Homo sapiens: one gene and its partners. The main gene of each other region encodes a partner of the protein of the gene in region 4 in a complex. Each region holds a gene or a part of one and is shown on either strand. Other genes may lie near its edges.

Evidence for each region.
Region 1: SNRPD1 (region 4) and BUD13 share a complex: the UniProt entries of both Homo sapiens proteins name them as parts of the minor spliceosome.
Region 2: SNRPD1 (region 4) and USP39 share a complex: the UniProt entries of both Homo sapiens proteins name them as parts of the U4/U6-U5 tri-snRNP complex.
Region 3: SNRPD1 (region 4) and LSM8 share a complex: the UniProt entries of both Homo sapiens proteins name them as parts of the U4/U6-U5 tri-snRNP complex.

The regions. Positions count from the first base shown.
Region 1 is NC_000011.10:116,766,488-116,769,987, forward strand, and holds part of BUD13 (BUD13 homolog), read right to left. Parts: intron 1-3,500. UniProt on the Homo sapiens protein: Involved in pre-mRNA splicing as component of the activated spliceosome. As a component of the minor spliceosome, involved in the splicing of U12-type introns in pre-mRNAs.
Region 2 is NC_000002.12:85,640,186-85,643,685, reverse strand, and holds part of USP39 (ubiquitin carboxyl-terminal hydrolase 39), read right to left. Parts: intron 2,711-3,500; coding exon 2,568-2,710; intron 1-2,567.
Region 3 is NC_000007.14:118,201,164-118,204,535, reverse strand, and holds the end of LSM8 (LSM8 homolog, U6 small nuclear RNA associated), read right to left. Parts: 3' UTR 501-3,372; downstream 1-500. UniProt on the Homo sapiens protein: Plays a role in pre-mRNA splicing as component of the U4/U6-U5 tri-snRNP complex that is involved in spliceosome assembly, and as component of the precatalytic spliceosome (spliceosome B complex).
Region 4 is NC_000018.10:21,625,814-21,629,313, forward strand, and holds part of SNRPD1 (small nuclear ribonucleoprotein Sm D1), read left to right. Parts: intron 1-3,248; coding exon 3,249-3,325; 3' UTR 3,326-3,500. UniProt on the Homo sapiens protein: Plays a role in pre-mRNA splicing as a core component of the spliceosomal U1, U2, U4 and U5 small nuclear ribonucleoproteins (snRNPs), the building blocks of the spliceosome.

The DNA.
Region 1 (3,500 bases), on a different chromosome or scaffold from region 4:
GTTAAAAGCACAGGTTTCGGGCAAGATGAATTAAGATCTAAACCCCAGCTCGGCCACTTAGCATTTGTGTAACCTTTGGTAAATTATTCTAAGCCTCAATTTCCTCATTTGTAAAAGTGGGATTCAAAGGATTGCTATAAGGATTGAATGAGATAATTCACGTAAGCTTAGCCATGCTTGGTACATGATAAATGCCCAATAAATGACACCTATTAATTATTCCTGTGCTGCCACTGCTATCGTAATCATCATAATCGTTTTACCATTATTACTGGTGGTGGTGGTGATCTTGCAGTTACAAAAATGAATTCAGTAATCAAGATCTGTTTTAACCAATGCAGAGAGCAGTGGCACTAAAGCCTCCTTTGTTTAGGTTTTTGGGCCATCATAAAAGCAAGACAATATTATAAAAGAAAATGGCCAGGTGCGGTGGCTCATTCCTGTAATCCTAGCACTTTGGGAGGCTGAGGCGGGTGGATTGCTTGAGCCCAGGAGTTCATGACCAGCCTAGGCAACACGGTGAAACCCCGTCTCTACCAAAAACACAAAAATTAGCTGGGCATGGTGGCAGGCGCCTGTAATCCCAGCTATTTGGGAGGCTGAGGCAGGAGGTTCACTTGAACCTGGGAGGCAGAGGCTGCAGTGAGCCAAGATTGAGCCACTGCACTCCAGCGTTGGTGACAGTGTGAGAATATGTCTCAAAAAAAAAAAATAATAAAAACAATTATGAACTAAGTGAAAAGGCAAATGATAAAATACACCCACAACATAAGCCTAATGAACATATAAAAAATGATTCATTTCACTAGTGTTCAAAGAAACTGGGCCAGGCACGGTGGCTCACGTCTGTAATCCCAGCACTTTGGGAGGCCGAGGCAGGCAGATCATGAAGTTAGGAGATCAAGATCATCCTGGCTAACACAGTGAAACTTCATCTCTACTAAAAATACAAAAAATTAGCCAGGCATGGTGGCAGGTGCCTGTAGTCCCAGCTACTCGGGAGGCTGAGGCAGGAGAATGGCGTGAACCCGGGAGGCGGAGCTTGCAGTGATCCGAGATCACGCCACTGCACTCCAGCCTGGGCAACAGAGTGAGACTCCACCAAAAAAAAAAAAAAAAAAAAAAGAAACTGGATACCATTACTCACTTGCTAAATCAGCATAGGTTTGCTATTGGTTTTGTTTTGTTAATAATCCTTCAATATTGGTGGGGCATGTGGCTAACACCTGTAATCCCAACACTTTAGGAGGCCTAGGCAGGAGGATCACTTGAGCCCAGGAGGTCAAGACCAGACTGGGCAACACAGAGACCTCATCTCTACAAAAAATACCCAAAATTAGCCAGGCATGGAGGTGCGCACCTGTGGTACCAGCTACGTGCAGGACTAAGGTAGGAGGATTGCTTGCACCTGGAAGGTAGAGGCTACAATGGGGCATGATCACACCACTGTATTTCAGCCTGGGCAACAGAGCAAGACCCTGTCTCAAAAATAATAATAATAATAATAATAATAATAATAATAATAATAATAGTGCTCTAATATTGACGACGTAGGCAAACTGGCATTCTCATCACCTCTAGTGGGAGTGTAAATTGGTAGCACCTTTTGGAAAGCAACATGGGAATATAACTAAAGCGAACCATACCCTTTGATCCACTCATTTCATTTTATGGGAATAAAGAAATAAACTGATTTCTACAAATGATTTATGTACAACGATGTATGATATTTTATAAGTGGAAACAATCCATGTATCCAGTAACAGAACAGATAAAATATATATATTGAACTACTACATAACCGTTAAAAATCATACACTCAAAGAATATTTTAAGGTCTTACCAGAGTATCCACAACATATTATTTAGCAGAGGAGTAGACTCCAAAACCCTATGTACAATATGATCCCAATTATGTTCAAAAAAATAAAATACAAGCGTGTATAATCTCTAAAGAGAAAAACCTGAAGAGATATGCATCCAAGTATTAGCAGTTATCTTTGGATGGTAACATGCAAGTGTTTATTCTTTTAAAAACTTTAAACTTTTTTTAATTCCCAAATATTCTGTAATAAATATGCATTGCTTTTATAAAATTAAAAAAAAACAACAAACATTGTTAATATTTACTTCTTCTGACCAAAACTAAATTGGCTCCCTAAGATCACTATTTCCCTTCTAATTACTAGCAAGCCCTCTTTTAAATAATCTATTTTAGAATTTTGCTGGGAATTGGCCAGGTGCAGTGGCTCACACATGTAATCCCAGCCCTTCAGGAGGCCGAGGTGGGCGGATCACGAGGTCAGGAGATCAAGACCAACCTGGCTAACATGATGAAACCCTGTCTCTACTAAAAATACAAAAAAAAACACAAAAAATTAGCCGGGCGTGTTGGTGGGCCCCTGTAGTCCCAGCTACTCAGGAGGCTGAGGCAGGAGAATGGTGTGAACCCAGGAGGCAGAGCTTGCAGTGAGCCGAGATCATACCACTACACTCAAGCCTGGGCAACACGGTGAGACTCCGTCTCAAAAAAAAAAAAAAAAAAAGAATTTTGCTGGGAATTAATATTAAATACTCACTGGAATCCATCTTTACCAACTTTAGTGGAATTCAGCCTATCTACAGCTCTCCTTTCCACTTTGTTTCTCAGAAATTCTCAGCAATGGTTTCATGAACCACTGGGAGGTCATTTGCCTATGATTTTGTCCACCTGGCTCTTACTTACCCTTCAAAACTCAGTATTTACATCTTTCAGGATATCTCCCAACAGAATACAAAGTATGCTACCTCCCCGGGCTCTAATGGTACTTGGTACGTATGTGAAACATCCCCAACATTTACCATACTGTTGAAATTTATCTGAAATTCAGTTTTTCATTCTAGGGTATAATCTCTAAAATACAGCTATGTTCTATTAATCTACATATCTCCAGTACTTAGGCAAGAATATACAATTTGAAAGCTTAGTTAAAGCACTGAAAAAAGGAGCAAATAAAAAGTTCCCTATAACTGAACCTCAGCATTGTTTTTAAGAAAGATTCCAACAAAATGAACCACAGCTAAGTCTCATCATTACTCTAACACTGATGTCGAGAAGTCCTCTCTCTGTGATCCATCTCATTTCTAGGCTGATGGACCCTCCATAAAGAGACAAGTTGGTGTATAGGCATCAGCAAAGAAAACTATTTTAAACAGCTCTTTGGAAACTGTCACCTCTTTTCTGTTCTCAACTAACCCCCCTACAAATCTACCCTAAGCTGGAAAAATAAATTTGAGAAGCTTGGCCTGGCACAATGGCTCACGCCTGTAATCCCAGCACTTTGGGAGGCCAAGGTGGGTGGATCACCTGAGGTCATGAGTTCAAGACCAGCCTGGCCAACATGGTGAAACCCCATTTCTACAAAAATTAAAAAAAAAAAATTAGCCAGGCATGATGGCGGGTGCCTGTAATCCCAGCTACTCAGGAGGCTGAGGCAGGAGAATCATCTGAACCCGGGAGG
Region 2 (3,500 bases), on a different chromosome or scaffold from region 4:
ACAGAGCGAGACTCCATCTCCAAAAAAAAAAAAAAAAGGAGATATGAGTCCTGAGTCCATGTGAGCTCTAGTCAGCCAACCTGCCTTCCTGCTACTAAAGGCTGACTTCTCATTTTATTTTCTCTTCAGCCTGAACAAAAGCTGACTAGACTTGTCTGAATGAGTATCAGTGAAGAAGTCTTTTTTTTTTTTGAGACAGAGTCTCGCTCTGTCGCCCAGACTGGAGTGCAATGGCGCTAGCTATCTCAATTCACTGCAAGCTCTGCTTCCTGGGTTCACGCCATTCTCCTGTCTCAGCCTCCCGAGTAGCTGGGACTACAGGCGCCCACCACCATGCCTGGCTAATTTTTTGAATTTTTAGTAGAGACGGGGTTTCACCGTGTTAGCCAGGATGGTCTCGATCTCCTGACCTCGTGATCCGCCCGCCTTGGCCTCCCAAAGGGCTGGGATTACAGGTGTGAGCCACCGTGCCTGGTTTGGAGAAGTCTTTATACTCAAGATTTCATGACTGAACCAAAACTGTCCATGCGGCAAAAGAGAAATACTACGTTTAATCATTTTGTGTTAGTAAATAGGAAAAGGAGCAAACTATTCATTTTTTTTTTTTTTTTAGTAGAGACAAGGTCTTGCTATGTTGTCCAGGCAGGTCTCAAACTCCTGAGCTCAAGCAATTCTCCCACCTCGGCCTCCCAAAGTGATGACATTACAGATGTGAGCCACTGCGCCCAGCCTAAAAGAGCAAACTATACTCATCTCCCAACCACAGCAACAGACCAGTTAAGAGAATGGCTAATTACCTGAAAGTGAAACTTTAAACCTGCCCTCAAAAATCTCTATCTCCAAATAAGCAGAGGGTGCCTAATCACCATAAGTCTGATAACTCTCCGACAAAAACAGGATGTGTTATGAATAAAACATAGGAGAAGACAGGTATGAAAAAGATCCTTTTCAAGAAGTATGGACAATGAAATGATCCAGAATTGTATTACTCGAAGTAATTACAGCACATAAAATAATTAAAGTGCAAGTTTCCAGAATTAGTCACAATTTGATGTTCTCTAAAAGACTGCGTAGTTAAGAAACAATCTTTTTCTCAACTTCTCCGAAGTAAGCTTTCTGAAGGACAAACTTTTATATTGGGCCTACTCTAGGCCCATAAAAGAAACCAATGGGGCAAGGAAATTTCTGTGGCAACTGAGCAGGAAGTACCATTGATACACAATCTTCCTCCCTCTGGAGTTGCCCTTGGAATCCAGACTGCCCCTACCTACCAGGAACAGACAGGTGACTGGCAATTCACAAGAGGCTAGTGCTGAAATAAAACTTTGACACACAGACTTTCGAAGAAAGCACCTCTGTCATCCTACTCAAGGAGGCAGAGAACAAACCTCCATGTCCCCCCATTTAATTCTAGTCACAAACAAGATGCTAGTGGAGAAAAGTGTAGAAAAAGAGAAAAAGAAATTCCCCTGTAATTCTCAACTGCAAATGTTCTCTCTCCTCACCCTCCATGATTCTAAGAGTCCTGGCAATACTATAATAAGATGTTACACCTGGACAAACCCCTAGGGCTCAGGCCCATCTACTCCAAGCCTCTCATTTTATCTATGAGAGAACATATCCAGAAAACACGCAAACTATGGGTCTGAGGTCCCACCACTAAGACAGCCTAAAACTCAGGCCTCTTAATTTTAGATACTACTTTCTTAAACACTACATGGAATTTAAAACTGACACTATTTTCTTTCTTTCTTTCTTTTTTTTTTTTTTTTTTTTTTAGCACAGTCACACTCTGTCACCCAGACCCAGGCTGGAGGGCAGTGACACCATCTCAGCTCACTGCAGCCTCAATCTCCAAGGTTCTAGCCATCCTCCTGCCTCAGCCCCTCAAGTACCTAGGACTGCAGGTGTGCACCACCACATCTGGCTAATTTTTTGTATTTTTTTGTAGAGATGGGGTTTTGCCATGTTGCCTAGGCTGGTCTTGAACTCCTGAGCTCAAGCGATCCAGCTGCCTTGGCCTCCCAAAGTGCTGGGATTACAGGCGTGAGCCACCACGCCCAGCCAAACATCTTCTTAAGTATGAAAAACCTTGTCTCTTGAGAACTGAAAACCAACAGTCTACCCCCAAAAAGGATCTTGCAGAAGTTTTCTGAGTTGGAAGGAAGCAAACTAAAAGCATCTAGTACAACTCTAGTGTGCAAAAAGGTGTGATGGCCAGCAAATAGATGGGCAGACCCTCACTACTCAGGACATCTTCCAAACCAGGCAGAATCCTACCTGTCTTATCCTACTTGCATCATTTCTTCTTCTCTACGCAGGAAGACTATAATTTCCAGCTAGCAACAGGAGAGAAGATAAAATAGGGATTGCATCCCAATAAACATCAATCTTTTGTGGTCCCTGAAATAAGTGTATCCTTCCAATAAAAACTCTTATCTACTGTAGGTAGGCTCTGTTCCTTGTAATCCCCAACTAAGACAGTCCAAAATTAATACTGGTAAAAATACAAGAGAAGAAATCCAGGTTCACTCCCCGTGAGAGAAGTGAGGCAGGATGTTACTTACGTAATAGGGAAATTGACAATAGTTGGATTCTTCTCAACAAAGAAGTTGTTCTTAGTGAATCTCTTGATACAAAAGATTAGATATGGAGGCAACTTGGTAAGCTGGAAGCGCTTCAGAAAGTTCTCCTTGTAAGTCTTATATTCCTAGAGAAAGAAAAGAAAATTCTCAAATTAGTGCTGAAGTTCAGTAGTATTAGAGCAGGGGCATGAGTTTTTCATTTCGATTTTTTAAAATATAATTTTGCCTCACACTTAAGTTCACAAGACTCCTGGTCCGAGAAATTATGTATGAGGCTTAGGATGTGCAGTTTGGCTAAGGCTGATTTAAAAAAAAAAAAAAAAAAAAAGGCCGGGCCTGGTGGCTCACACCTATAATCCTATCACTGTAGGAGGCCGAGGCAGGGGGATCATTTCAGCACAGGAGTTCGAGACCAGCCTTGACAACATGGTGAAACCCCATCTCTACTAAAAAGGAAAAAGAAAAAAAAAGAAAAAAAAAATATATATATATATATGTAAAGAAAGAAAACTAACCAGGCACGGTGGCTCATGCCTGTAATCCCAACACTTTGAGAGGCTGAGGCAGGCAGATCACTTGAGGCCAGGAGATCGAGACCAGCCTGGCCAACAGGGTGAAACCGCATCTCTACTAAAAATACAAACATTAGCTGGGCATGGTGGCATGTACCTGTAGTCCCAGCTACTCGGGAGGCTGAGGCAGAAGAATCGCTTGAACCCGGGAGGTGGAGGTTGCAGTGAGCTGAGATCACACCACTGCACTCCAGCCTAGGCAACAGAGTGAGACTCCATCTCAAAAAAAAAAAAAAAGTATGTCTCCCCACTTTTTGGAGTTTCTCCTCTCCTAAATGACCTTCCTTTCTCTATACTACCCCAGAGGCAGGCAGAAAGCTGAAAACAGGATATATGAGAAGTA
Region 3 (3,372 bases), on a different chromosome or scaffold from region 4:
TATATATACACACACATTATATATACACTCTATATATACACTATATACAATGTGTAAACAGTAAATGTTATTGTGTATATATACAAAAATGTTACATATGTGTGTATGTGTGTGTATATGTATATGTATATATGAAATATTTCCTTTATCAAATCAACCACTCATGGACACTTAGGTTGGTTCTATGACTTTGCTACTGTGAATCGTGCAATGATAAGCATACACATGCAGGTGTCTTGTTTATAGTTTCATATGCTTTATTTTTTACTGTAGTAAATGAAAAATATAGCCCCATCAAACCAGAAAATTGAATCTTGCTTGAGGACAATAATTAAAATTCTTCTTAAATCATCAAAGTCCAGGGCTTCCTTCAAATGTAAACTTTTCTTTTTTAAAAAAGTGTGTCCTTGCTATTTTTACATACCATCCGTTATCCCCATAATTACATATCACCCTTAAAATATGGCAAGAATCTCAGAAAAAAACATGGACATTCTTAGTAGCCTCTGTAAAATAATTTATTTTTAGGTGTAATAATTAACAGCAATATATCTATAGTATTAAAATTTACAAATCATTGTTAGAACTGAGCAATTCATAGGTAACCAATAAGGGAGGAAAGGAATTAGAAAGCAACCAAGAAAAACAGCTGTAAGAATATGGAGATATTCTTCATATGCAATAAGGTGGCAAATTTATTCAAAAAAGCATGATAAATATAAAGGATGAGTATATTATAATATACATGTGCACATATTAAATGTTTGAAATCACAAATTATGATTTATTTTCTCAACTAAACTGTTACTATAGAATCATAAAAAGGAAGAGAATCTTGATGATTTTTCCATTAGAGTATACCATGTTAGATCTGGCAGATGACTTTTCACTTTTTATAGTGCTCCAAAAATTGGTACACTTCCCTTTGCCTTTTGGAGACATCACTGACTTTGATATTCAGAGTGGTAAAATCATGATATAAAAATTCTTGCCCATTGAAACTCAATTATCCTATTTACTTGATTTTTAGTCCCTTTCTTCATTTTCCTTATTTAGATATTAATCTCTACTAAACAACCATTACTCTATTTAAAAAATTTAAGTCTACAGCTTGAATAATCACAGCTCTATTAATATTGGATATTAGGACCTCCCCGCAATTTTTACTCCTATATGATATCAGAAATATTAGTATCTTCTTCAAGGGAAATGGGAAAATTATGTGAGTTTTAAAAGGGGTTTATATTTCTTTCTTAAATTAGTATTCAGAGTGCCCCATAATTCTGTTCTCATATAAGCATTTCTCCTGTACAATTTAAAATCTGTTTTTTGAGATTAATTTTTTAAATGAGTCTTCTTAGAACATCTTGCTTTGGAGTTTGGGAGTTAAATCCTTTCATTAAATGTTTAAAAAGAATATATATTCTGATGTCTTGGGATAGAACGTTCTATAAATGGCAGTTAGGTCAAGATGGATGAAAGTATTGTTCATGTCTTCTATATCCCTACTGATTTAAGGCTACAGTTTTTAAAGACTGATAGGGAGGGACTTGACGCCAGAATCCTGAAGGATAAAGTAAGGTAAAAAAGTGTGTAGAAAGACAGTATAGATCAGTGCTTCTCAAACTTTAATGTGCATATGACTCACCTGGGGAATTTATTAAAATTCATATTCTGCATTTTATATCAGAGATAAAAAAGAATTCTGTTTGGGCATAGAAGTTGTTTTCACCTGCCTCTGAGATACTTGCTTCTATACTAGCACAATGGCAGCATTGTTGGTTGTTCACCCCATCCCCATTCTTCTCTTTTTCCTAACAGCAACCCTTTTTTTATTTGGAGTGGCAAAATGTCACTATAAAAGGAAAAAAATCCCTCACCTTCCTAGCCTCCCTTGTAGTTAGGGTAACCATATGACAAAGATCTGGCCAATGGCATTCAAGCAGTATATTTTGCCAGTATAGTCTGCTGGTTATAGTTGGGAAAGCATTTATTTTTCCCATATGATAATCTCACTTTCCTATTTCATCTTTCTTTATTCTAATTAGATGGAAAATATGAGTCACGAGATGACAGGCAAATTATTAGAACAAAAGGATGGCAAAGAGAAAATAGTGGCCTGGGTACTGGGTCACTTCTTTGAGTAGGTGCCCCAGTCTGAACTGCCTTGCTTTTCACTTTTCTGTTCTTTTCTCTCGAGATAAATGAACTCCTCCTGCCTGTTAAAGCCACTGGCAGTCAGAGTTTCCAGTGCTTATAGCCAAATACCATTCTAACTGATGTACTCACCAATAATAATCGTAACTTCCTTTCATATGACACTTCATGGTTTCTTCATCAGCATTATGTGTGACACAAGCAAAAACAAAAACAAAAAAACTGCCAATGTATCTATTTCAAGACATCCCCAGAATTCTGTTATTAAATAGCATTGATGAGGCAGTCAGCCAGAATGTTTAAGCTGTCCTAAATTACTGCCTCCTCTGTGTTTAGGGAGTCTGCTCTTGGTCTTACAAGTCCAAAAGCAGAATATTACAAATTCACATAGAAGTGATCAGGATCTAGAGACTTGATTTATGCCATGCAGATTCACAGGGCATTTGTTTATAAAATTTGTGCTGGAAGATTACTTGTGAACTAGGGCCAAACCCTTAATTATGACTAGGGAAACCCAGAAGATAAAGTTGCATTAAAAGCCTGCTTGATGGAAACAGAAACATACAAAAGATGGCCTTACAGGGAAAAAGTTAAAGTGTTACCACAAATGTATACATGAAATGACCAATAATTTTATTTTATATTTCAAATAACTAGAATTGTACAGAGTTTAATTTTACAGCTTTAGGGCAAGGATAAACTCATTTTTATTTTTGCAGTAAAAGGTATAAATATTGAAAATTATGTAGGTTTAAAACTTTACTATGATATAGACACATTCTCAAATTAATGAATTTTACTGAGCTTTTTATATCAAACTTACTGATATTTAATGCAAAATAATAAATATTGAGATTCTTGGTTGTACATTATAAAATGCATCACAGAGCGATTTATTGATGCAAAGGAACCGTTTTGGCTCATGTAAGTGAAAAGTCTAGGAGTCACATCTTTAGGCATCGCTGGATCCAGGTGCTGAAATGATGTCATCAGGCCCAAAATGTCTCTTTATTGCTTGATTCTGCTTTCCTGAGTTGGTATCAACTAGGAGACTCTCTCTACATGCTCCATGGCAGCTCCAGGCTCACACATACTTAGTATTAAGATTTTCTCCTCTTCTTTAATATAAAGGAAATTCAGCTAGATGATCTTTAGTTCAAAATTCTGTGATATATAAATAACTCGAAATAACTGCTAACAGTTAATGAAACATCT
Region 4 (3,500 bases):
GTTAGCCAAGCGGTCTCGATCTCCTGACCTCATGATCCGCCTGCCTGGGCCTCCCTAAGTGCTGGGATTACAGGCGTGAGCCACGGTGCCTGGCCCAAAATCTTTTATCTACTGTGTTTTCTCTGCTTTTCTTTGTTCCTCTGGGTAGTTATCATTTTTGTTCCTTTTCTATCATAAATACTATTTCAGAAGAAATTGAAGGTAAGTGTGGTCAATTTGGCCCATTTTAACGTGTTCTAGACTTACAGTTTTTGTGTGTACACATTTAAAATAGTACGGTTTAAAATAACTGAAATTGGCCAGGTGCGGTGGCTCATGCCTGTAATCCCAGTACTTTGGGAGGCAGAGGCGGGCAGATCGCCTGAACTCGGAAGTTCGAGACCAGCCCGGGCAACATGGCATGAACTTTGTCTCTACTAAAAATACAAAAATTAACCAGGCATGGTGGCAGATGCCTGTAATCCCAGCTACTCGGGTGGCTGAGGCAGGAGAATTTCTTGAACCCAGAAAATGGAGGCTCCGGTGAGCCGAGATTACGCCACTGCACTCCAGCCTGGGTGACAGAGTAAAACCCTGTCGCCAAAAAAAAAAAAAAAAAAAAAGGAAACTACAACAAATTAAATAATGAAAATGAGTCTTCGTTTCAAGTTTGTCATAGTCTAGTGTTAGGGAGTTATTTAAAAATTATTGGTTTGGGCCAGGTGTGGTGGCTCACGCCTGTAATCCCAGCACTTTCAGAGGCTGAGGCAGCTGGATCACAAGGTCAGGAGTTCAACACCAGCCTGGCCAATGGTGAAACCCCATTTCTACTGAAAATACAAAAATTAGCCAGGTGTGGTGGCGGTCACCTATAATCCCAGCTACTCGGGAGGCTAAGGCAGGGAATTGCTCGAACCTGGGAGGCAGAGGTTGTAGTGACCCGAGATCGCACTACTGCACTCCAGCCTGGACAACAGAGAGAGACTTGGTCTCAAAAAAAAAAAAAAAATTGTTTTGTTTGTTGTTTGTTTGGTAAGAGACAAGATCTCACTGTGTTGCTCAGGCTGCAGTGAAGTGGCATGATCATAGCTCACTGCAGCCTCAAACCCCTGGCTTCAGGCTGTCTTCTGCGTTGGCCTCCCAAATGTTTGGATTTTTTTTTTTTTTGAATAAACATTTATTTTCTTTCTTTAAAAAAAAAAAAAAGAAGCAGCAGCTGGGCGCGGTGGCTCACGCCTGTAACCCCAGCACTTTGGAAGGCCGAGGCAGGTGGATCACCAGCCTGGCCAACAGAGTAAAACCCCATCTCTACTAAAAATACAAAAAAGTAGCTGGGCGTGGTGGTGGGCGCCTGCAGTCCCAGCTACTCGGGAGGCTGAGGCAGGAGAATCGCTTGAACCCGAGAGGCGGAGATTGCAGTGAGCAGTTGTTTTCTTAATTTATCTTTCTTTTTTACAGATATGCACCACCAAACCTGGCTAATTTTTTATTTTTTATTTTTTTGTAAAGACAGGGTCTCCCTATGTTGTCCAGGATAGTCTTGAACTCTTGGTCTCAAACAATCCTCCTGCTGTGGCCTCCCAAAGTGCTGGGATTATAGGTGTGAGCCACCATCATACCTGGTCCATTTTCTTTTCTTGGGTTTTTTTTTTTTTTTTTTTTTTTGAGACAGAGTCATGCTCTGTTGCCCAGGCTGGAGTGCCATGGCGCGATCTCCACTCATTACAACCTCTGCCTCCCAGGTTCAAGCAGTTCTCCTGCCTCAACCTCCCAAGTAGCTGGGATTACAGGTGCCCAGCCCTTTTGTTGTTGTTGTTGTTGTTGTTTTACAACACCCCTCCAACTCTGTTTTTCCCATTTTCTTTATTTTTTTAAACACTTCATTTTGAAATAATTTTAGACACAAAAAGTTGCAAAAATAGTACAAGGAATTCCCATACACTTTTCACCAAGATTGTCTAAATGTTAAAATGTCATATAACTACAAAAAATTAGAAATTTTACATTGATGTGTCACTACTGTATTATCTAGAGACCTTTCTCACATTTCTCTGATTGTCCCTTTAATGTCCTTTTCCTGGTCCAAGATCCAATCCAGTACAACAGGTTGCATTTACTTGTACGTTTCCTTAGTTTCCTTTAATGCGTATCAGCTGGTTCTCCTCAGTTTTCCTTTTGTGACCTTGATACTTTGTAAGAGTACGGGCCAGTTATTTTGTGAAATGTCCCTTAATTAGCATCTTAAACTTACTATTTATTGCTTAGAATGGTAAGACTAGAATCAGTGTGTACAAATTTCTAATGTGGCCAGGTGCGGTGGCTCACACCTGTAATCCCACCACTTTGGGAGGCTGAGGCTGGAGGATTGCTTTGGCCCAAGAGTTTGAGAGCAGCTTGGGCAACAAAGGGAGACCTCATCTCTACAAAAATTTTAAAAATTAGCCAGACATGATGGTTTGTACCTGTAGTCCCAGCTACTCAGGAGGCTTAGATGGGAGGATCACTTGAGCCCAGGAGTTCAAGGCTGCAGTGAGGTGTAATTACACTCCAGATGGGACTACAGAGTGAGACCCTGTATTTAAAAAACAAAAACAAAAACATTTAGAATGTGACTGACTTCTATGTCAAGATTTTCTAATATTCTTAGCTGTCTGAAGATGAAATAAGTTTATTTGGGTCATGAATTCCCTATCACCATGATACTCAACTAGAGTTAGGATGACCCAGTAGGGATATTACTATTTGGATTAAAGCACTAGATTATGTGTAGGTCAAATGAGTTTTAATTTTCTGAAGAGTTAATAAGATTGTGATTTGATGTAATACATTTAAACTTTCCTGGTTTTGAATTAACTTGCTTGGATTTTATTCAGTTACCAAAACTCTGGCATCAAGGTGATCATGTTTTATTCTGTGATATATATCTTCCCTTTTTTTGTGAGGTTCAAATCATTTTATGGTGAATTTGAGACATGATATAAAGAAAAAGTATTTTTAAATTTGACACATTTCTTAGTAAATAAATTGAAATGAAACAAATAATAATCTCCCTAGGCCTTTAGTTATTGGTTCTGCATGATAATGTGTTGGGGGGTGGAGGGAATCTGAAGTCTAACACATTTAACAGAAGCTAGTTAAACTTTATTTACTGTAGCTACTAATAAAGAGCTATAAACAGGGAAAGGTGTGTGTGTAAATGTTGTTTGTGGTGTCTAGGTAACATTGGTGCAGGAGAGAATTGAACTTGGTTTGTTTTTCTTTTCCTTCAGTTGCAGGAAGAGGCAGAGGAAGAGGAAGAGGAAGAGGACGTGGCCGTGGCAGAGGAAGAGGGGGTCCTAGGCGATAATGTCTCTCAAGATTTCAAAGTCATATGAGATTTGGGATATTTTTTGTACAGGTTGTGTTTGTTTATGTCAGTTTTTAATAAACATAAATGTGGGACAGAGCTGTCTATTTAGTATATCAAAGTTTTAGTAGTTTCCTCCACATTCACGAAATTACCACAGTGAGAGCTAAGCATT